Homo sapiens: one gene and its partners. The protein of the gene in region 1 interacts with the protein of each later gene in a pairwise test. Each region holds a gene or a part of one and is shown in the gene's direction. Other genes may lie near its edges. The genes, in order: KIF5A, TRIM55, FMR1, ITSN1, EXOC1, MAP4K4 and BACH1.

Region 1 (4,134 bases):
CTGTCCCATTCCTTATGTTGGACTCTTTTCTTTCAGTTCCCTTAAGATTCAAGGTAGGTTAGAGGTGTAGCCCCAATGTGGGAAACCCCCTGAGTTCTGAATAGTTAGGTCTTGTCTGGCCAGGCTATCAGCCTCTTACTTTTGTCCCATAGTGTCTTAAGTGACCTTAACCACTCACCAGACAGTTGCTGAGCAGAACTTTCCTTTCCTCCTCCTTCTCCCATCCACCCTGCCCTTCCTCTTTGCCTAGAACCTCAACTCCTGCAGTCCAACTCTCTGTTGGCCAGCAGAGGCCTGTGACATGGAGAAAAATCAATTTGGCCAGCTTCTTGGTGGTTCTTTCCAGGGGCTGCAGCAGGAGTCTGACCCAAAGGAAGGAAGGACAAGGAATCTCTGGGCTTGGCATTTCTTTCGTTTTTCTTCCCCCACACCTTTTTTTTTTTGGCCAGGGAAGGGGGCTGAAGTATTGGGACTCTATCCTCCAATGGTTACTGAGACAGAAAACACACACTCCCGTAGGTATCTGAATTTGCCTGAAACCCAAATGCCGGCTTTGCCTCAGACTTCAAAGTCTCTCTGGCCTTACCCATCCCCATCATTGCCCCTCCTTCACTGCTTTCTGACTCCCTTTCTCTTGCAAAGATGTTTCCCACCCATCTTCCTCCCATCCTCAGCCTAGGACACAAAAATAAGTATTGTATCTGCTTTTGAATTCCCATAACCCAGAATGGGAGTTTATCTTCCCTGAAACTGGGGACCTGGTGTGTACGTTGGGGAGACAGTATAGTGCACCTTTGGATGTGGAAGGGGAAGGGAGTAGCCAGAACCTCCCACGACACCCAACTTCATAGGAGTACAGGCAGGGGTCCCCCCAGAAAGCTGAGTGGGTTGGGAGTCCAGCTTCCGTGCATGTGGGGCATGGGATGGGCGTAGGGGGAGAATGAGAAGTGTGATCCCAGTTTGGAGAGAGGACTGTGACGGGTTGGGGGATGCCCTGGAATAAAGGGAGAGGGAGATCTGTTGACCCTTTTCGCTACACAGGCGACAGGCCCACCTCAGTCCCCTTATCCCTTCCAGGGGGTGGAGTCTGAGGGAGGGACAAACAGGTCGGGGGTATAGGGGTGGGATGCAGTGAGTTGGGTGGGGAAGGGTCGAGGGCAAGGTTATCTCCGAACGTTAGGGGTGGGGGAGGGAGGAGAGGAGCGGTGAGGTTCCACCCTTCGGGGGTCGACGTCGAGCCAGCGTCCCCAGTGGAGGGAGCCCCGCCCCCGCTCCTCCATCGCGGCCCCGCCCAGGCCCGCAGCGCGGCGCTGCAGCGCGAGGGGCGGAGAGGCAGAGAGCCCGAAAGGACCAGACGCCCAGGTCGCCCGCATCCCGCTGCCGCAGGAGAGAGACAGCGCGCCCCGGCCCTGCTCCCCAGGCTTCGCCCGGGCGCCCTCAACTCTGTCCCCAGAGACTGAGCACCTGTCCTCCGCCTCGGCCTCTGCTGAGAGCCCTCTCCTCTGGAGCACACACCACCCCTGCAGCCCAAGAAGAGTCCCAGCCCCACGCCGGCTACCACCATGGCGGAGACCAACAACGAATGTAGCATCAAGGTGCTCTGCCGATTCCGGCCCCTGAACCAGGCTGAGATTCTGCGGGGAGACAAGTTCATCCCCATTTTCCAAGGGGACGACAGCGTCGTTATTGGGGTGAGTGTCGCCCAGGAGGGAATTCGGGGAGGGGGCAGGTGGCTGAATCTCCCCGCCCCCCGCAGAGCCTTAGTCTCTGCTGGTCCCTTTGCTCCCCCTCCCCGCCGCTCATCCTTCATCCTCTTCCCCGCAGCCCCTCCTCTCCCCTGCATCAGGATGGCTGGGTGTGGCCTGGCCAGGCCAGCGGCCGAGTCTCTGCAGAGTGGCAGGGGGCTGCTTTCCTACCTTCGGGAGATCCAACTCCCCTTTGCTGCTGTCTGCAGCGTCTCCACCCGTTAGAACCAGTCCCATGTTTTTCTGATGTTTTCCCCTTCTCCACCACCCGCTCCCCAAGAGAAAGCGCATCTTCCCTTTGTTATTGGCTCAGATCTCTACCCCCACCTCCCGGAAGGTAAGGCGGAAGACTTTTGGGTGGATTAGATGGGAGGTGAGCAGTCCAGGGTCTCTGCAGAGTGTGGATGGAAGTGGGCTCTAAGACCAAACCTTCCATCATTCCCTAAAGTAGTTATAGCCTGGATTTTTGTGTGTGTGTTGTGGGGAGTAGGTCTGATGCAGGGTTTACTGGGAAAGAAATCATTGATGCCACACCCAATCTTGGGGGGAGCCTCTGGAATCCTAAGGTCAGGTCTGCCTTTTGGTCCCAGGTACAGTAGGAAGAGGGTTTCAGATTCCCCAACTGACCCCCCTAAAGAAAAATGCCCAAACCCTGAGATCCTAGTCAGTACCTGCTTATTCATCCTTTCTCTTGAGGATCCAATAGAAAGTAGCCATCCAGCTCTACCTCATCATGACAGCCCTACCCAAGGAGGATATCTTAAGGGAACTAATATTAACAGTGGGCCTGTTACTCTACGTATATTATTTAACCCCCAAAACAACATTCAGAAGTAGTATCAATATTTCCATTTTACAGATGCAGAAATTGAGGCCCAAAGAACTTGAATAACTTTCTCAAGGTCATGCTATTCATCCATGGATCTGAACCTAAATCTGTGACTGCAAACCTCCCATCTCTTCTATCACATTGCCTACCCAGGTTTCTGTTCTGCACCTTTATCTGTAATGGCCCAAAGGGAAATTCTAGGCCTTGCCCACTCCCCCTGAGGTTGGTAGGGACCTCAGGCTGTGTGTGGGGAGAAAAGATCTGGGGTCGAGTCCTGTAGGGCTTGAGGGGTGCTGGGCCAGGAAACAAAAACTAGCTTGAGGAGGGAGGGGCATGTACGAGGGCAGTCAAGGTCAGAGGTGCTTCTTATGTATCTTTATCCACAGTGCTTGGCACAGAGCACCTGGACACAGGCTTGTTAAAGGAATGAAGGAAAGAAGGGGAGGAAGCCTGGGCCTTCTGAGTCAGTGAGAATGGGACTTTGAATAAACATGCTTCGGGGGAGACCTGCTTACCAGTCCCCAAGGGCCCCAGTCTGTCACCACCTTGCACCCTTACCCACACTGTTAACTCAAATGGATGCTTTTGGTCTCTCTCTCTCTCTCTCTCTCTCTCTCTCTCTCTGTGTATGTATTTGCCACATGGAGAGGGCCTCTGTTTCTTTTTGCTTCAGGGACCTCGCTGGCCCTGCAGTCTGTTCAGTCTGGCTGGGCTAAAAACAAAACAAAACAAAACAAAACAACCACAAAACAACTCCTGGATCAACTCTGGAGGACCCCTCTCAGAGTGTCCTGGATAGCCAGCATTAGTTGTGAGAGTTGGAGCTTCAGATCCCCCTGAGACATAAAGGCTGAGAAACAGGAGGAGGGTGATGATGGGGGCAAAACTTTTAGGCCCAATTTCCTTGCTCTGGGAGGTTTTTCCAGTAAGACTGAACCAACTCCTTTAGGCTCTCTGGGCCATCCTAGTATAGTGGGATGGGGCAGGGGGTGATGTTGGTAAGAGGGGTGTGGTGTCGATCTGTTGTTAGCCCAGCTAAACAGGAGAGACACACAGTGGGAGGTGGGCAAGGAGGAAAGATGAATAGAAGCCCCAGGCCCCCTGCCAATTCAGATTCCATCTCAGCTCCACAGCTGGATCTTCCTTGTCTGTTTTGCCTGATATCTGTAGGGCTGTACCTTTGTCTTGCTCGTATCTTCCCTCACCCTAGCCCTCCCTGTCAATCTCTCACTTGAAGATAAATGCTTACGGGGGGGCCATTTTGTCTTAGGCAACATCCTTGGAGTTTGCTTTTTCAGACTTAATATTCATTCATCATTTAGGGAATGAGGGCTACAGGAGACATGATTTTTAGGAGACCCTTGAGGGTCCCAACAAGGGAAGGAAATTCCTACTCCTTTTTCTCTTTTCCCCTCTAGCTCTTTTTGGAGCCCACCAGGTCGGGAGCTGGCTTAGGAATTAATGGGGGAGGCTGCTTCAGGATGTCTAGGAAGGTGCGGGAAGAGTGAAGGTGGGAGAGATAATCTTTCCCAATGCAGCCCCTACTCCTTCCTGTGACTG
Region 2 (3,500 bases), on another chromosome or scaffold:
AGAGATGTTAAAACTTGCAGTATTGGTAAAACTACAAAACACATCTTCACCTTAGCTATGAAGTTGGCTTGGTGCAGCTGCCAAAAATAGTACCCAGGCCTGGGAAGTAAATTGCGTAAAAGCAATGAACCAAATTTCCAACAATAAAGCTCATAGTTGAGTGAACTAGGGATGCTTTTGTGATTTTCTGTGATTTTGTTATGCTGTTTTTTCTTGAACTTGAGACTTTCCTGTGGGACAATTTTACTTGGTAGCAAAACCACAAGTTGCACAGAGCACTTGGCCACATGTCTGGGAGGAAACGCAGTTGTCCCCTGGGGGCAGACAGCCTTACTAGACCAGAATCTTGAGCCTCAGGGTACATTAGGTAACACTGGAATGACCTTGGATATACAGAATGAAAAGAGTTCAGCTGTGGCTATTGGAAGGGGGTCGGGGGGGGTGACCAATCACAGACTGGGATGTTGTCAGTCAACTCTGACCTCCTCCAGAAAGGCTGGAGACTGTAAGTCTCCACAAAACCTAGCATTCTTTTTTTTTTTTTTTTTTTGAGATGGAGTTTTGCTTTGTTTCCCAGGCTGGAGTGCAGTGGCGTGATCTTGGCTCACTACAAGCTCTGCCTCCCAGGTTCACGCCATTCTCCTGTCTCAGCCTCCCAAGTAGCTGGGACTACAGGCACCTGCCACCACGCCCAGCTAATTTTTTTGTATTTTTAGTAGAGATGGGGTTTCACCGTGTTAGCCAGGATAGTCTCGATCTCCTGACCTCTTGATCCACCCGCCTCGGCTTCCCAAAGTGCTAGGATTACAGGCATGAGCCACTGCGCCCAGCCAAAACTTGGCATTCTTATCCAGAATTCTGCATGGTGCCAGACTAGCCACAGTTGGGAGTGGGAGATGGTAAGAGAAGGTACTATTTTGGCTAATATTAATAATTAATATAATAATAATTAACTTTAAAATATAACAAGTAAAACTACTATGTGCTGCATGCCAGACACTGTTCAGGGTGCCTAACACATGAATCATGTGCAATTCTTTAATTCTCACAATAATCCGGTGAGGTGTTGATTATTATAATTACTGCTACCCTATTAAAGCTTTTAGTGCCTTAAAGTAATCAACATACACAACTTTTAGAATTCATTACTACTGGGCCTCTGAAGAGAAATGCAGTCTCCACTCTGTTCTCTCTTTACCCACCCCCAAGCCTCATTCCCCAGAGTCAACCACTTTTAATTCTTTTAGCTGTTTTTCTGCTATTTATCACCAATGACATGTGCATACTACTGGTATGCTCCTATTCTTTGATTTTTCAATTTTAGACATTTTCTATTGACTTTCCACTGTAGACAATTAGGACTGAGCCCTCACATGGCTGGGCTTTACCTCTACTTGGGAATTCTTTTACTCTCCCCCTGGGTTGAACCCCTTGCTCCCTGGATTCCAGGTCTCCTTGTTTGGTGGCTTACTCTCTTATTTCTATGGAGCACATCCTCAAGTAATCTCTTAAAACATGCACAAAGTCCTCCTCTTTTCAGCCTCTCCCAGTCTGTCACCGCCTACTTCCACCTTCAGGACTACTGGCTCCTGCAGTTCCAGAGCCTTTCCAGGGTTCCATAGCTCAAGTCAGCTTGCTTATTGTAAGCTTCTCACTGCAGGAATGTAACAGAACTAAGATGCAACTCAAGTAGGTCATGTCCCTTCATCCAGATGTTCCTAATTTCCAACATTTGGTTGACATCTCTCATCTGCTGTCATCTGTGCTCACTTTTTGTCCTTATTGATTTATGCCCTTTTATTTCCTTATCCTCATTTCACTGGGATTTCAGCAGAATAAATACATAAATACATACATACATATATAAATACATAAATAAATACATGCTTGTGTTCATTCTGCCACATTTAATTAGAAGACCCTTAATCTGATATTTGATACGAGTAAAAACTGAGACCAGAAGAGGTTAAGTAACTTGTCTAAGGCCACATAGCCACTACATGGAGAAGCTGAGCTGAAATGAAGCTTTAAGATCAGTTTGGGCAGGCACAGTGGCTCACGCCTATAATCCCAGCACTTTGGGAGGCTGAGGTGGACAGATCACCTGAGGTCAGGAGTTTGAGACCAGCCTGACCAACATGGTGAAACTCCATCTGTACTAAAAATACAAAAAAATTAGCCAGGTGTGGTGGCAGGCACCTGTAATCCCAGCAACTTGGGAGACTGAGGCAAGAGAAATGCTTGAACCCGGGAAGGTGGAGGTTGCGGTGAGCTGAGATTGAGCCATTGCACTCCAGCCTGGGCGACAAGCAAAACTCCATCTCAAAAAAAATATCAGTTTGACTACAAAGTTACTACTTCAATTGCCTCACCAAGACCAGATGCCCACTCCTCAGGAAACTCTAGGGTGGCCCCGGGAACCTCAGAGACCAGAGACAGCAGGCTACATACTTCTCAGTCTAGCCTACACTGAACGGTGAGGGGCCACAGCCAACATTTAGCACTGGGCCCTGACCACAGCTGTGAGCTTGGCTGCTCTCACCTCATAAACATGTATTTATGTCATTCTTTTACATGCCAAATCGGTCCCAAGTCAGTTACATGTTTGAAGTTGTACAGAGGTTTCATTATATGCTCATCTATGAGTAAGTGGTGCCTCTGGGGCTGGGCTACAACCTAAATAAGAAAAACCCAATGAGGAATATGGGAAATTGTTCTCAGTGTATACAGCACCATGAAAAAAATAAATAAATTGAATCACAAACAAAACTAAATGTAGAGCCTTATGGCTGTTTTCACATTTTCAATATTTGCATATACTGCATAGACCTGTGCTCTATGACGCAATCTCTGGTCACAGCTGTTGATATCAGAACAGCATGTGGGACCCAAGCTGCCCACTCTTGCTTAGCCCACATTAATAATAAGGTGGAGATACCTACGAGGGAAGGGTTTAGAGGGGAAGAAGCCTTTGACCAGGCAGAGACCAACTTGCCAGTCCCAACCCCAGAGGGCACTGTCATTTATTAAAGGAGTAATCAGGATGTGGTCTGGTCTCTTCCTCTGCCACTCAGGAGTGCCAGGTGATCCCAGGCTTTCCCCATATTTGCCATGCCTTCTCCAGCTGGGTGGTGTTACACTAGAGCACAGGGAATACTGTCCATTTAATAGGTCAAATTCCCTTTCATTGTCTCACTCATTTGTGCAACAAATATTTATGGAGCCACTGCCTCTGTGCAAGGCACTGTTCCGAGTACTGGAGATGCAGCAAAAAAAAAAAAAGACTCATCATGGCCCCTGCCCTTATGGAGCTGATATTCTAGTGGAGGAAACAGACAGACCTGAGAGGAGGATAATTTTCTCAATTGTGGAGTTGACTTCCTTATTTGAGTTCCAAATAATGTGGTCAAATCAGAAGGTCATAGACTTCATGGAAAGCATATTGCTGCAAGACCAGACAGAAATTCCTTTTGCAACAGTCAGATTCTAAAATTTTGAAA
Region 3 (3,500 bases), on another chromosome or scaffold:
CTTCAGAGTTCAAGGCAGCTTGCCTCGAGATTTCATGAACAGTTTATCGTAAGAGAAGATCTGATGGGTCTAGCTATTGGTACTCATGGTGCTAATATTCAGCAAGCTAGAAAAGTACCTGGGGTCACTGCTATTGATCTAGATGAAGATACCTGCACATTTCATATTTATGGAGAGGTAAATATTTTACTGCATAGTTTTTTTTTCCCCAAACAAGTATTTCAGCTGGCTAATCTTTTGTCTTAAAATGTTTCCCCTTTTATTAGGATCAGGATGCAGTGAAAAAAGCTAGAAGCTTTCTCGAATTTGCTGAAGATGTAATACAAGTTCCAAGGAACTTAGTAGGTAAGTCAGAAGTATCTGTTGACATATAGTACAACAACTAAGTTTAGGTAAACAGTTTATTTATAGTGATAGAATTCCATTTTTTCTTACTGGAGGGTATCATTTAATTGAAACATAGTCTTTGAAATATGATCTGTTCTTTTTTTTTATTATTTAAGTTTTAGGGTACATGTGCACAATGTGCAGGTTAGTTACATATGTATACACGTGACATGCTGGTGCGCTGCACCCACTAACTTGTCATCTAGCATTAGGTATATCTCCCAACGCTATCCCTCCCCCCTCCCCCCACCCCACAACAGTCCCCAGAGTGTGATGTTCCCCTTCCTGTGTCCATGTGTTCTCATTGTTCAATCGATCTGTTCTTACAGCATACAAAAAAATATTTGTTAAGTATGATGCTCAAAGGTTACATTTTCAGAAGGTATTCAAAAGAGATTGCTTTTCTAGTTCAAACCTACTAATACCTGAAAGGATAAATCTTGCCCAGCCCTCCTGACTGTATACCTTTTATATCTTAAAATTAAATAATTTTTCAAAATGAATGATATTTGGGGACTTTATGATTTGAAATAGATTTGTATTTGATCTTTCTTATGGGACTATAAAATGATAGCATTCATTTTAATTATCTCAGGGTTGAAGATCTGAACATAGGTTACTTAAATCTAAAAAGTTCCAAAGCTAGAAGAAACTTCAGATGTCTCTGGGACTTTCTGCAAAGTCAATAGTAATTCTTCATTTTGACTTGAGTAGTGTTTTATCACCATCACCATCGTGAGTATCAGCAAATATTTAGGAGCTCTTCACCAATACTCCTAAATGCTGCAGATATCTTTAGTAGAACATATCAAAACCAGGTGCAGTTTTATCAAGAAAGCTACATATGTTTTTAATTTGTAAATAAAATTGGGACATACTGCCTATATGTTTTTTATCTTTTAAACTTGAGATCATGGCCATTTTATATAAAGTAATACATGTTCTTTGGAAACTTTAAAGAAGAAAGCAAGGACTTCTCATACATTCTGTTTACGTAGTTTCAATGCTAATTTAGCCTGCTTTTTTGTCAGCATAGACTCATAAACATCTTCCTTGTCATTAACAAACACTAGAAATGATAAATGTATCTCCCAAAGAAAATTAGCTTGAAGATAAAGTGCAAATAGTAGGAAAATAATGCAGAAGTGTTAGCTCAACTGTGTACTACAGACAACTGGAGAAATGTGTTTGTAATGTTACTAAGGTAACTTGCATACCAATTGTATGTGTACAGAATGTATGCATAGCGCAAGATAAAGTGCTAATCTCAAGACAGTTGGGTGATGAATAATATTTATTTTCTTCTTTACAGCTTGTCAAGCAATTGCATACCTTTTGTAGTTAGAAAGGTTATTGTAAATTTAGGAATTCTTATGGAAAAAGAGCTGGTAGTTGTTTTGTTTTTTTTTTTTAATAGCAAATGAGTAGAGAATTATGTGTCAGATTCATTAAAGTTGGTTTTGAAGATGGCATGATGGTAGTGGGGAAAGTGCTTGGGCATTGGAGTTGGATCTGGATTTCAGTCCTACTTTATTCTTTGGTGGCAATGTGAGCGTGGGTCACTGTCTTAGCCCCCCTGAGAATTATTTTTCTTACCTATCAAATGTGATAATAGGATCCACCTCATAGAGTTGATGTGATAATTAAATTGGAAGATATAGTAGGGGACAATTCTGGACACAGTAGGGGACTCTGTTCTTCACCTTATTCAAAACAACTCCATTTCAGTAGAACAGAATCACAGTAAATTGCTCTTTGGGATTTGGAAATAAGTGTAATGTAGAATTGGATTATTTGCTATTAAATATTAAAAGTAGATTCTACCTGTGGTTACCTGGAAAGAAGAGGATCTCAGAAATAACCAGAAAGACTGCTAAAAGTAAATCAGCCTTGTTTTTGTTTTGTTGTTTCTAGTTAGTAAAATGAGATAATTCTGTTTTAGAGATGGTCCACTGCAACACTGGGAACGTTGGAACTTTTCAGAAAGCATTTTTGTGTAAGATTCTGCAAGGCAGATCTTTAGAGAGGTGTCATAATCAGTTTTGCATGTGTTTTGTTTGAGTCAACCAACGTTATTTGTGATCTCTATTTTTCACAAACTCTCTTTGGTATGTGCACTAATTTATCTTTTCATTAAAATTGGATTCTTCACTCACTAAGAATGAATTGGTATGACTATTCAGTCAGCTATAGTTAACACACAGTACTTAGGATAATTAAGATATTATCTTAATAAAAACATCCCCAAATCTCATTTTTCATTTTGTTAACTCACTTAGATCTTTATTAAAGTCAACATTAATTCATGAAAATGTAAGTGTTGCAGTTTAAAATCAAACTGTGTGAAGACTCCAAGTAGCTTCTCTCACCTCACCTTTCCCCTTTTCGTTATAGAAGAACAGAAATAATTGACAGAAGGACCTAGACCAAGAATCCTGATTTAATGGTGTCAGATCTGTTCTATGACCAGTCAAAGAGTTTCTAGGGGTGAATGAGGCAGCCACACACAGCAAGAATGTCAAAGCTATGCTCTGATTACAAGAGCCACAAGAATTTTTTGTGAGAAGGCTTTTCACTGAGTTCTTATCTAGCATTGGCTCAAAGCAAATTTTTGCTTCCATCTTTTCCCCCAACTTTGCCTTGAGCTTTGCCTTTAAAGGCGAAAAGGAAAAAATGGAAGATGAGATGGTGAGGGCAAGCACATGGTGGATGTGGCCAATGTAAGGGTACTTAGGTACCTTGGGTGAGCCCTCAGAATCAGATGTAGTTCACATGTACATTTCCAGAATTAGTAATTCTTAAGTTTGTAATGTCTTGCTTTACCACTCGTGTCATGATGCAAATGAAAGCAGTCATTTTCCAGTAATGTATATGATTGTAAAATAAATAAGGAAATGATCAAGTACCTATTTTTTACTGGTACTTGAAATCCCAAGTTTTAATAGATGTTACTGAAAAATACTTAAATTGGTTTAAAGCTTTTTCATTGTGGTTTTGAGTTATCTTAAAGTGGGTTTTCTTAATCTTTTACTCTGTGACTAATCCCTTCACTTTTTAATACATTGCTAAAGTTTGTAAGTAATGCACAGGAGTGATACTCTGTTAACACATTG
Region 4 (2,861 bases), on another chromosome or scaffold:
CCAGCTAAGAAAAAGGCGAACTCCCACTATATAAAGGGAAAAGGTTGTATTCATTTCATGTTCCTCATGAAATCTCTGCTGTATGTTTATGGAATGGCCATGACTAAATGTATATATGGTATGTAAGAGGCCATGCTGTTAAATGTTGCATAAACTAACACAGATTCTGTAGTCAAAAATATTTAACTTGTTATTGTAAAATGTGATTTGTCATTGAGAGATTATTTTTCTGTATGTATATGAGAGTATTTTAGGAATCTAATTTAAGTGCATAAAACTATAGAAAAAAATTTAAAACCTATTCCAAGAGTAGAAAATGCTTAATGAGATTACTTGGGTTCAACTCAACTAAATTTCTTATATTAAAAAAAAATTCCAAGTTGTATATGTTAGAAATCAAATGAGTCATTTTTTTTCCTGCAGGAAATATGATAAATTTCAGTGTAATGGATGGTGGCGTGATCAAATGAAAAGTATCCTGTAGCTATGACCTCGCATGGGACCTTGGTGTTGCATTAAAAATGGATTTTTGCAGATCACATATCTGAGAGGGTACTTGTGTCAGGAAGGATGAGAGGATAGGGAGCCTGTTTTTCATCAGATCCATGTGCCACGCAGGCTTCCTTGGGTTCTAGTGGATTTGTTAGGGATCTGGGGCTGACGCAGCTATCCCACTAGAGAGGCCACTCTCTGACTTCCAGGTCGCCCTTTCTACTTCTGTATCTGGATTGATTCAGTTTATCCCTAATTAGCGTTTGCGTTTTCCATGAAATTTCCTGATGCATCCTCACTGTCTTCAACTGTTGCATAGCCAGGTGGGTGGATGGATGGTTTAGGGTTTCTGAGTTAAGCCGTTTTGGGGCAGGCTTCTGGATGCCCATGTTTCCATGGAGACCCCAGGGGGAAGATGCCTTCCTCCCGTCTGCATTCCCAGAAAAGGATCAGAAGTCCAGGCTGCTTCTGGGGCACAGACTTTCTGTACTTGGCCACCAGAAGTGCCCCTTAGGCCACCTAAGGAGGATTCTGTGAAACTCAATGTCTAAACCCCTGAGAAAGGCATTCAGAAATGATTTCAGGAGGGGGCAACCCCAGGAGTCCAGCCTCCCCTGGCAGCCTGGAAATACTGCAGTAACAAAAAGAGCTGGTTTCTGGTGATCTGAATGCATTGTGTTTGGGGGTGACACCGCTGGTGGAAGGTTGAGGGCCTGTGGTCTGAAAAGACATCTGAAGAATGTGTTAGGTTTTCAACATTTCTTTGAACAGGCTGCGTGCATCTTAATGCTGTCAACCAGCAACTGGAGCCCCTTTTTTGAGAGGCCCGAACCAGTAAAGCTGCTGACTTCAGGAGTATGGGAAGCTGTGATTTCTGGAAGCTTCCTGGAATCTATTTAGGTGCATGAATAATCTGCAAATCACTTAGAGGCACTGTCCATGTGGTCCATAACTGGCTTTATTCCCAAAGATGGAGCTGTTCAGAGATTTCTTTGTTCAGGCGCAGCCTTGGAAGGCCACCTAAGGCCTGCCAGCAGAGGAGATGAGCTCTGGTCTACCAACCCCAAACAGGCCCTGACTCTCCTTCCTTAGAACGATGCCCTCTGGCTGGGGTGGCAAGAGGGCTGTGAGTGGAAACAAGTCAGCCAGTCAACTGTCCCTTGGGCCTTGGTTGTTTCAAAAAAGTCTGGGGACAAGAAAAGCTAGAACATGGGGCCCTCCCTTCCCAGGAGTGCTAGCGAACCCTCCCAGATAGCCTTTGCCTGTTTGGAAAAGAATGTAATCCATCAGAACGTGAGCTCCTTGTGCTTCCAGTGACAAGCGGGCCACAGTGCTGGTGGCATGTTGCTTCCCTCACAGCCCTGCCCAGGGGTAGGACCAGGCCCGCCCCTTGATGGATGTGCTGTTGATTGTAATATACTTCTGTTGCCAAATAATGGTACTGTTTAATTTTCCATAAAAGAGAGACTATATTGTCTGATATGTAATGTTAATGGAATTCTAAGAATTACTAGACACTATTATAAATTGTAGACTTACGTATTTGTCTAAAGGTTTGATGAAGCAGGGCCAAAACATTGTTTCTTCTTTTTTGTTTGAAAGAAGCTGAGGTTTGTTTTTGCTGTTTGAGTGTTCCTTTGGCAACTTATTATGTGTGAAATGTTAAATTTTACCGATTAAGATGATGGTAACTGAGACCTTTCTTTAAACCAGTAGCAACATCAGTACAAATTGCTCTTCCTGTGTATCTTGAACCTAAAAAGAACAATCTCTTCAAAAACAAAAACAAAAACAAAAAACAACTCTTTGGTCATTTTGACCTGTGTGGTTTAAATTCAAATAGTTCATGAATAAAAGGAGAAAAGCCAATCTGTTATAGTGGATTATTTTGGGTTCTTTCTGCTTCACTCTTTTCTGAGAGCACAGGAAGCTAACAGCCCTGCAAATGGTGTCTCTTCCTCTTCCCACAGATAAGATTGTAGCTGTGCAAGGAAAATTGTGCAGAAATAAACCTAGAAAACAAAACCAACCAACAACCCTTTCAGCTGTCCTGCGGCTTCAGATAAATGTTAGCTAACACCAAGCAGAAATAGATTTCTGTGTACGAAGTCTTTGTGAGAACAGGAGAAGTTTTGTGTTGTACAGCATAAGAAATTCTGAGGGTGGGGTTGAGAGGGCGGTGCAAAAAGCTGATTTTCTTATAAAGACATTCAGAAGGGTCGCTGAATTTCCAGGAAGAAGTTTCTAACACACGTAACTCCACGTGTTCAGCACTTGGGTGATCTATAATTCTGCGTTCCATAAAACCCAACGCTGAATTGTATTAGGTTGTTTCCTCCTGTTCTGGTTTTAAGGCCATTCCTACCTAT
Region 5 (3,500 bases), on another chromosome or scaffold:
CATGTATGAAATACTACACATTTGCATTGAAAAATTGTAATACATATCCACACAAATATGTATATGAAAAATAAAATAGAGATTTAAAATTATTTTAAGTTGATGTTTGAAAAGATGCTGAGTTAGATAAGAAAAAGGAGATAAGTGGAAACCTATTTTTATAACAGTTTTATTGAGATTATGTATCATAAAATTTACCCTTTTCAATTGTATAATTGAGTGATTTTTGGCATATTCACAAGGTTGTATAACCATCATTACTATCTAGTTGAAAGACATTGTCATCACCCCAAAAAAGAAACTCCATACCCATTAACAGTCAATCCTCGTTTCCACCTTCCCTTCCAGCTCCCGAAAACCACTTATATTTCTGTATCTATGGATTTTCCTACTCTGGATATTTCATATAAATGGAATCATACAATACGTGGTCTTTTGTGGCTGACTCCTTTCACTTAGCATAATCTTTTCAAGATTCATCAATATTTTAGCATGTTTCATTACTTCATTTCCTTTTTTTCTTTTTTTTTTTTTTTTTTTTTTTTTTTGGAGACAGAGTCTGGCTCTGTCTCCCAGGCTGTAGTGCAGTGGCGCAGTCTCGGCTCACTGCAAGCTCCGCCTCCCGAGTTCATGCCATTCTCCTGCCTCAGCCTCTCCCAGTAGCTGGGACTACAGGCACCCACCACCATGCCCGGCTAATTTTTTTGTATTTTTAGTAGAGACGGGGTTTCACCGTGGTCTCGATCTCCTGACCTCTTGATCCGCCCGCCTCGGCCTCCCAAAGAGCTGGGATTACAAGCGTGAGCCACCGCCCGTGCCCGGCCCTTTGTTTTTTTTGCAGCCGAATAATAATCCATTGTATGGATATACCACATTTTGCTTATGTATCATTTGATGGACATTTCTGTTATTTCCATTTTTTGGCTATTGCAAATAGTGCTACCATGAACATTCATGTACAAATTTTTGTGTGGACATATGTTTTCAGTTCTCCTGGAGTGGAATTGTTGGATTATAAGGTAGCCCATGTTTCACTTTATGAGGAGTCACCAAGCTGTTTTCCAAAGTGGCTGCACCATTTTACAATCCCACCAGCAATGTATGAGAGTTCTGTTTCCTCTCATCTTCACCAACACTTGTTACACCAACACTTGTTATTTTCTATCGTTTTTATTTTAACCACCCTCATGGGTGTAAAGTGGTTGATACCTCATTGTGGTTTTGATTTGCATTTCCCTAGTGGCCAGTGATGTTAAGCATGTTTTCATATGCTTATTGGCCATTTGTATATCTTTGGAAAAATGTCTGTTCAGGTCTTTTATTCAGTTTTTAATGGGGTTATTTGTCTTCTTATTGTTGTAAGGGTTCTTTATGTAGAAAACTATATTAAAAGTTTGAGCAGTGGGTTGAAGATTTTTTTCTTAAATCTTGTGTGTGTGTGTATACTTGGTGAGCATTTCCAAACATTTTAGAGTTTGATAACACTGGTTCTCTAATTTTATTTCCAAACTTACAGCTTTGTATTTTTGTGATATAGGTGTATTCATATATTAAATCATTTTTCCTAGGCTTGTTAACCAAAAATTATTTTCAAATCATAAATTCAGAAGTATAAGATGGAATGATGTTGAGGGTGAGCTTAATATCTATACTCCACATTTTTCAGCTGAGAAAAGATGACAGCAATCAAGCATGCATTACAAAGAGACATTTTTACACCAAATGATGAACGCCTGCTGAGCATTGTGAATGTCTGCAAAGCAGGAAAAAAGAAAAAGAACTGTTTTTTATGTGCCACAGGTGGGTATTTAGTAAGAAAGAGTACTTGTTTTGTATCCTTTTATTATTTAGAAGATATTTCCTCTTTGTTTTGAATATCCTCATTGTCTCTGTAATTGGAAAAATTGTTGGGTCAACACATTCCTAGTTAACACTTGGCTTTGACAGGCTGTTAATTGTTGTCAATCTGGTGGCAGTGAAATAGTATCTCATTGTGGTTTTAAATTATATTTCCCTATAATGATGAGATTGAGCATCTTCTCATGAATTTCTTAGTCATTTCATTCTGTTGTGTATGAAATTTACCTGTTTAAGCCTTTTACTCATTTTTCTGTTGTGTTGCTTGTCCTTTTACTGATTTGTACAAGTTCTTTCTATAATCTGGTTATCAACCTTTTGTTGGTTGTATGCATCCCAGTTAGTGGCTTGTCTTTTCACTTTTTATGATGCCTGTTAATGAAATTTATAATTTAAACTAAATGAAATTAATTAATCCTTTATGGCTTTCCCTTTTGGTGTCTTAAAAGATCCTTCCCTGTATCTTTTGTGCAGTCATAAAAATATTTTCCTAAATTCAAAAGTTTTATAATTTTGCCTTTTACAGTTTAGTCTTAGTTCACCTGTGTTGACATCTGTCATGGTGTGTGTGAGCATTTCTGGTTGTCATCTTATATGTTATTTTTATTTTGTTTTTGTTCTTTATTCCACCTAAATTTTAGAAACAACTTGTCGAGTTTCAGACTTTGTTGGGATTTTGATTGGAATTGTTTTGAACCTATAGTTCAATTTGGAGAGAACTTGCATTTTTATTGTATTGAATCTTTGTGTCCATGAACATGGTACAGTTCTCTATTTATCTAGGTGTTTTTTAACTTTATAAGTTTCATCATTTTCTCTAAAGGTTTGTCATGTATATTCTTGGATTTACTCCTGAGTATTGGTTTATTCTTAGATTTTATTTGATAGTCGTGAAAGCGCTTATTAACATTAATACATTTTAAAATCATATATTGTTAGAATTCTACAATGAATTGTTGGTGTTTTATATGGATGTCTATCAATCTTGCCAAACTTTCTTATTAATTCTAATTATATGTAGACTTTTTGAAAGTAGTGATATTTTTCTTCCTTCCTTTATAGTTTTTATATCTTTTATTTTTGTTGGTTTAGTTTCCTAGTTAGGACTATCAATACAGTCTCCATCTCAAGGAGAATGACTTCATTTTCAAGCATGGTATTTGGTATAGGGTTTTTATAGCTATACTTTACAGTGTTAAGTAAGTTCCCTTCTATTCCTGGTTTCTTACACTTTTTTAAAAAATCATGAATGGGAGTTGAATTTTATCAACTGCTTTTTCATATCATTGATATCATAAAATTTTCTTCCTTGTTAGTGTAGTATATAATTGTACTTGGTTTTTGAAATGATAAATTGACTTTTTAGAATGACCTCACTCAATCGTAATGTATTTGTATTAGGCCATTCTTGCATTGCTATAAAGAAATTCTTAGGCCAGGAGCAGTGGCTCATGCCTGTAATTCCAGCACTTAGGGAAGCTGAGGTGGGCAGATCGCTGGAGCCCAGGAGTTTAATTAAGACCAGCCTGGGCAACATAGTAAGAACTTTATATATAAATGTATTGTTGCTCTTTGAAATGGTATTTTGCTCTTTCAAGCCTCACAGACTTTACTTATGTCAATCATTCTTTAGATTTTTACCT
Region 6 (2,742 bases), on another chromosome or scaffold:
CTTTGAAACTTGGCCCTGAAGAACGTTTCCACCTTTTGCGTCACATTGACAGACTAGCAGTCAGCCCAGTTCTCAGATTTAAACATTTAGTCATTTAATGCAAGAAAGAAGAAGCTACACATATGTCCTTGGCAGCTGGTCCTGCTTGCCCGATACATCCCAAACACAAAGTCACTTCACCTCTACCCACTGTCTTCTGCAACCCTACAACTCAGTTTCAAGTGGAGTTTTGCCTACAGATTATCTCCCAAATCTGTGACCTTGAAAATCTCTACAGCTCAGACCTAATCCAGGATTTTGTCAGCTTGTTGGCTTATACTTTCCTAAGTATGTTTACCATAGCTGCAACTATAGCATTCTTTGAATTTCAGGCATTTAAATATTTTTATCATGCATGTCATGTCCTTTAAGATTTATTAATAAATGGCACAAAAATTCTATTTATGGGTTATATGAAGTAATTAATACATTTTTTGTTGATTTTTAAAAAGAAATTAGGTTGTTAAGGAGTCTTCCGTGATGCTCATTGTGTTTTTTAAAGACATTTATTTATTAGAAGGTGTTAACAGTAGAAGTGGAAAGAAATAACTTCAGAAACATCCATTTTTTTCCTTTGTTGTCTCACAATATGCCAACGTGTAAGGAGTTAGTAGTAACAAGCCTGAGTTGTAATAAAAATTGGCTGCAGATGGTCACTCCTTACAAATTATAAATTGATAATTGCCCCAGAGGTTTTTGTGGGTTGTTTTTGTTTGTTTGTTTGTTTTGGTGACGGAGTCTTGCTCTGTCGCCCAGGATGGAGTGCAGTGGCGTGATCTCGGCTCACTGCAACCTGAACCTCCTGGGTGCAAGCAATTCTCTTCCTCAGCCTCCTGAGTAGCTGGGATTACAGGAGCCCACCACCATGCCCAGCTAATTTTTTGTGTTTTTAGTAGAGATGCGGTTTCACTATCTTGGCCAGGCTGGTCTTGAACTCCTGACCTCATGGTCCGCCTACGTCGGCCTCCCAAAGTGCTGGGATTACAGGCATGAGCCACCATGCCCAGCCTTTTTATTTATTTATTTATTTTTTGAGACAGAGTCTTGCTCTGTTGCCCAGGCTGGAATGCAGTGGTGTGACCTTGGCTCACTGCAGCCTCCACCTCCCGGGTTCAAGTGATTCTCATGCCTCAGCCTCCTGAGTAGCTGGGATTACAGGTGTGTGCCACCACATGGTATTTTTAGTAGAGATGGGTTTTGTCATGTTGGCCAGACTGGTCTGGAACTCCTGGCCTCCCAAAGTGCTGGGATTACAGGTGTGAGCCACTGCACCTGGCCTCAGAGTTTCTTTTGAAAAGGCTCTTTGGGAGTCTAAGCTTCTCGTACTTGACAGTGTTGAGGATGATGGTGGCTTAGATTCCCTGGCTGGAAGTGCTTCATGACCATGGTAACCATTCCCTCTCTTTTCTTGCTTTTGCAGGTGTTCTTTGCCTCTGTTCGGTCTGGTGGCAGCAGTCAGGTTTATTTCATGACCTTAGGCAGGACTTCTCTTCTGAGCTGGTAGAAGCAGTGTGATCCAGGGATTACTGGCCTCCAGAGTCTTCAAGATCCTGAGAACTTGGAATTCCTTGTAACTGGAGCTCGGAGCTGCACCGAGGGCAACCAGGACAGCTGTGTGTGCAGACCTCATGTGTTGGGTTCTCTCCCCTCCTTCCTGTTCCTCTTATATACCAGTTTATCCCCATTCTTTTTTTTTTTCTTACTCCAAAATAAATCAAGGCTGCAATGCAGCTGGTGCTGTTCAGATTCTACCATCAGGTGCTATAAGTGTTTGGGATTGAGCATCATACTGGAAAGCAAACACCTTTCCTCCAGCTCCAGAATTCCTTGTCTCTGAATGACTCTGTCTTGTGGGTGTCTGACAGTGGCGACGATGAACATGCCGTTGGTTTTATTGGCAGTGGGCACAAGGAGGTGAGAAGTGGTGGTAAAAGGAGCGGAGTGCTGAAGCAGAGAGCAGATTTAATATAGTAACATTAACAGTGTATTTAATTGACATTTCTTTTTTGTAATGTGACGATATGTGGACAAAGAAGAAGATGCAGGTTTAAGAAGTTAATATTTATAAAATGTGAAAGACACAGTTACTAGGATAACTTTTTTGTGGGTGGGGCTTGGGAGATGGGGTGGGGTGGGTTAAGGGGTCCCATTTTGTTTCTTTGGATTTGGGGTGGGGGTCCTGGCCAAGAACTCAGTCATTTTTCTGTGTACCAGGTTGCCTAAATCATGTGCAGATGGTTCTAAAAAAAAAAAAAAAAAAAAAAAAAAAAGGAAAAAAAAAAAGAAAAAGAAAACGTGTGCATTTTGTATAATGGCCAGAACTTTGTCGTGTGACAGTATTAGCACTGCCTCAGTTAAAGGTTTAATTTTTGTTTAAACCTAGACGTGCAACAAAAGTTTTACCACAGTCTGCACTTGCAGAAGAAAGAAAAAAATTCAAACCACATGTTTATTTTTTTTTTGCCTACCTCATTGTTCTTAATGCATTGAGAGGTGATTTAGTTTATATGTTTTTGGAAGAAACCATTAATGTTTAATTTAATCTTAATACCAAAACGACCAGATTGAAGTTTGACTTTTATTGTCACAAATCAGCAGGCACAAGAACTGTCCATGAAGATGGGAAATAGCCTTAAGGCTGATGCAGTTTACTTACAAGTTTAGAAACCAGAATGCTTTGTTTTTACCAGATTCACCATTAGA
Region 7 (3,500 bases), on another chromosome or scaffold:
TCAGCCTCCCAAAGTGCTGGGATTACAGACATGAGCCACCATGCCTGGCCTTTTCTTGTTTTCTCTTTTCCCTCCCTCCCACTCTTTGGAATCACAGTGGACTCATGGATTAATTTTTTCTGATTCAATTTGTTAGGATAAGTAATAGTCATTATTCTTTTTGATGTTGACATTTTTCAAATTTGGCCTGGGAGAGCCCGTTCAAGCCAGCTCCTGTCCTGTTGACATAACCATCTAGCACTTGCCATGGTCTCACTTTTTAACCTCTATTGTTTCAAGATTTGGAATCACCCATTTCTTTAAAACTCCTGGTTTCTTCTAGCAGTTATATTGGACTTTGGAAAGCCTACCTGCTGCTGGAGTATTATTCCTTCTGGGCCTTTTTCAGTGGACAGAGCTAGGAAATATATGCATCTGTGTATAAAATAAAGTTCATTATATCATGAATTCATATATATCAGGCTTCAGTAAATGAAAGTAAAAAGTACATTAGAAATCCTGAGTTTATGTAGTATTTCCAGTCCAAATTTAGCAGTATAGAGCTTTTGTCTTCACTTCTGTGTTTATGTTTAATCTCTCATCATTTACAGGAAAAATTTTGGCTCCAATTACATTAGTGTATTGTTTCCTTTATAATATACAGTAAGTTCTCACTTAACATGAAATGATGGATAATGAAACCAGTTTTTTTCCTCATCAACTTTATAATGAAAGGATGTTGTAAAAATGAGAACACTTGGACACAGGGTGGGGAACATCACACACCGGGGCCTGTCGTCGGGTGGGGGAGTGGGGAGGGATAGCATTAGGAGATATACCTAATGTGCCGGGTGCGGTGGCTCAGGAGTTCGAGGCTAGCCTGGCCAACATGGTGGTGCAAACCTGTAATCCCAGCTACTCGGGAGGCTGAGGCAGGAGAATCGCTTGAACCTGGGAGGTGGAGGTTGCGGTGAGCTGAGATCATGCCATTGCACTCCAGCCTGGGCTACAAGAGCGAAACTCCGTCTTAAAACAAAAACAAAAACAAAAACAAAAACAAAAAAAACGAGTTAATGGGTGCAGCACACTAACATGGCACATGTATACATATGTAACAAACCTGCACGTTGTGCACATGTACCCTAGAACTTAAAGTATAATATAAATAAACAATAAAATAAAAAAGAAAGGATGTGGAACAAAATGTTTATTGAGGACCTGGTGTGCGTTGTTTCTCTTAAAGTCAGTTTCCAAAAACCTGTCGATGATTTTAAGTGAGGGCACACTGTATAAAAAGTAAGAAAATTAGACAATCAGTATTACTATTAACAGTAAACAAATTGAGCAGAATTTGAGATTTATTTGCTTTTTTATGCTTAAATATTTCCCAGTGTGAAGCTTTAAAGTTATTTGAAATATTTGTGTTACCAATTTGGCATACAATTAATTTTTTTTTCTATTTATATTACTGGGATTTACTCTACATTTTTTGAGACAGGGTTTCACTCTGTCACCCAGGCTAGAGTGCAGTGGCACAGTCATGACTCACTGCAGCCTTGACTTCTTGGGATCAAGCAAATCCTCTCATATCAGCCTTCTGAGTAGCCAGGACTACAGGTGCGCACCACCATGCCCGGGTAATTTTTTTGTGAAGGTGAGGTTTCGCTGTGTTGCCCAGGCTCCTCTCAAAACTCCTGGGCTCAATCGATCCTCCTGCCTTGGCCTCCCAAAGTGCTGAGATTTTAGGCATGAGCCACCATGCCTGGCCTACATTTTTAATTTGTTTTATTTTGAATGTAAAACGTTTATATGGTTCAAACATTAAAACTATATTTTAAAAAATATATACTCCAAATCTTGATCTCATCTTCTCCTTATACCCTATTCATAGCTACTTCCTATAGGTAACCATTTTCATTAGTTTCTGGATTTTTTTTTCCCTGTGTTTCTTTTCTAAAAATGTGTTAACATTTTATGTCTACTCTTATTATCCATCCTGCTGCATGGAAGTATTTTATATACATTTTTCTGTACTTTTTAAACTTAAGAATTGATTTATAGGAAATATTTTTTCTTAGTTCAGAGAGGTTGTCATTCGTTTTCCAGCTCCATAGTACTCAGTAGTGACTGTAATACAGTTCAAACCAGTCTTCTGTGGGTGGACAGTTGGGATCCTGCAGTGAATAACTGTATACTGTTTCATGTTTAAGGAGCTGTGTCTCTAGGACACATTCCTAGAAGTGGGATTGTTGGATCAAGGGTAAATACATACATAATTTTATTAGATATTAACAGATTCCCCTCCTTAGGAATTGTCATATTTGGCCTTCCAGCAGCAGTATATGTGTGTGTGTCTGTCCACACCCTCAGTCAAGATTTGTTGTCAGCTTTTGGGTTTTTTCCAGTCTGATAGTGAGATACCATGATATCTCGTGGTAGCTTTTATTTTTATCTTATGAGTGAAAATGAGCATTTTTGCTTATATTTCTCAGTGCCATTTGCAGATTTCTCTGAACTGCCGTTCAGAGGTTTTACTTACTAAGGAACTATTAGTGACCATTTTCTAACAGTGAGTACTCTTTACCCTATCATAAAATTGTCACTTGTACTTTTGGTGCCAAATTCTTCTATATCTTTATTGGGTGAGTTATATTTATGATCTTTAAAAAAATTATATTTGAATAAATATTGTGCACTAGCTATTCAAAATAAGGATTTAGATGCAAAGGTTTTTTTTTTTTTTTTTTTTTGAGACAGAGTCTTGCTCTGTCACCCAGGCTGGAGTGCAGCGGCACAATCTCGGCTCACCGCAACCTCCGTCTCCCAGGCTCAAGTGATTCCCCTGCCTCAGCCTGCCCTTTTAGCTAGGTTTACAGGTGTGTGCCACCATGCCCAGCTAATTTTTTTGTATTTTTATTAGAGACAGGGTTTCACCATGTTGGCTAAGCTGGTCTCGAACTCCTGACCTCACATGACCCGCCCACCTCAGCCTCCCAAAGTGCTGGGATTACAGGCGTGAGCCACTGTGCCCAGCCTGTAAAGATTTTTTGTTGGTATAAAATCCAGAATGGTACCAGAATGCCAATTTTATTCCTTTTTAAGAAATAGCTCTAATTAAAGGTGCAGCACTTCAAACGTGATTTATACAGTTGTTTTTATAGGAAAATGGAAATATATTGTAGGGATAGGTAGCAGGACACTAATAGTGAGTCCCACTCATGACTGTAAGTAGTGACTTTGGGAGGTATCTTAAATACTGATGTCATTAAGTAATTAACTTGAATTACTTGTATTTTACTTTTAGTTATTAAGCTGACTGCTATTATAGTAAATATGTGTCTTAAACTTAGAGTGAAATGGAAACTGCTTAGAAGCTTAGCTGTGTAGGAGTTAAAGTGCAGGGGAACAGATGGGAACATTTAATTTATAGAAATAATTCTGGTGGAGTTCTAGGGCTGTGCCTATTTGTTTTAGTTGTTGTGAAGAAGCAAGCCATCTTGTATACTTAAAGAATGATGTCA

What was found.
Region 2: the proteins of KIF5A (region 1) and TRIM55 interact in a two-hybrid assay, tested with the Homo sapiens proteins (one large-scale study listed by BioGRID and IntAct).
Region 3: the proteins of KIF5A (region 1) and FMR1 interact in a two-hybrid assay, tested with the Homo sapiens proteins (one large-scale study listed by IntAct).
Region 4: the proteins of KIF5A (region 1) and ITSN1 interact in a two-hybrid assay, tested with the Homo sapiens proteins (2 studies listed by BioGRID and IntAct).
Region 5: the proteins of KIF5A (region 1) and EXOC1 interact in a two-hybrid assay, tested with the Homo sapiens proteins (2 studies listed by BioGRID and IntAct).
Region 6: the proteins of KIF5A (region 1) and MAP4K4 interact in a two-hybrid assay, tested with the Homo sapiens proteins (one large-scale study listed by BioGRID and IntAct).
Region 7: the proteins of KIF5A (region 1) and BACH1 interact in a two-hybrid assay, tested with the Homo sapiens proteins (one large-scale study listed by BioGRID and IntAct).

Annotation. Positions count from the first base shown.
Region 1 is NC_000012.12:57,548,710-57,552,843, forward strand, and holds the start of KIF5A (kinesin heavy chain isoform 5A), read left to right. Parts: upstream 1-1,334; 5' UTR 1,335-1,562; coding exon 1,563-1,691; intron 1,692-4,134. UniProt on the Homo sapiens protein: Microtubule-dependent motor required for slow axonal transport of neurofilament proteins (NFH, NFM and NFL). Can induce formation of neurite-like membrane protrusions in non-neuronal cells in a ZFYVE27-dependent manner.
Region 2 is NC_000008.11:66,130,129-66,133,628, forward strand, and holds part of TRIM55 (tripartite motif-containing protein 55), read left to right. Parts: intron 1-3,500. UniProt on the Homo sapiens protein: E3 ubiquitin ligase that plays an important role in regulating cardiac development and contractility, muscle growth, metabolism, and fiber-type differentiation.
Region 3 is NC_000023.11:147,932,419-147,935,918, forward strand, and holds part of FMR1 (fragile X messenger ribonucleoprotein 1), read left to right. Parts: intron 1-6; coding exon 7-177; intron 178-266; coding exon 267-345; intron 346-3,500.
Region 4 is NC_000021.9:33,897,501-33,900,361, forward strand, and holds the end of ITSN1 (intersectin-1), read left to right. Parts: 3' UTR 1-2,361; downstream 2,362-2,861. UniProt on the Homo sapiens protein: Adapter protein that provides a link between the endocytic membrane traffic and the actin assembly machinery. Acts as a guanine nucleotide exchange factor (GEF) for CDC42, and thereby stimulates actin nucleation mediated by WASL and the ARP2/3 complex.
Region 5 is NC_000004.12:55,856,648-55,860,147, forward strand, and holds part of EXOC1 (exocyst complex component 1), read left to right. Parts: intron 1-1,666; 5' UTR 1,667-1,676; coding exon 1,677-1,800; intron 1,801-3,500.
Region 6 is NC_000002.12:101,889,707-101,892,448, forward strand, and holds part of MAP4K4 (mitogen-activated protein kinase kinase kinase kinase 4), read left to right. Parts: intron 1-1,459; coding exon 1,460-1,543; 3' UTR 1,544-2,742.
Region 7 is NC_000021.9:29,336,922-29,340,421, forward strand, and holds part of BACH1 (transcription regulator protein BACH1), read left to right. Parts: intron 1-3,500. UniProt on the Homo sapiens protein: Transcriptional regulator that acts as a repressor or activator, depending on the context. Binds to NF-E2 DNA binding sites. Plays important roles in coordinating transcription activation and repression by MAFK.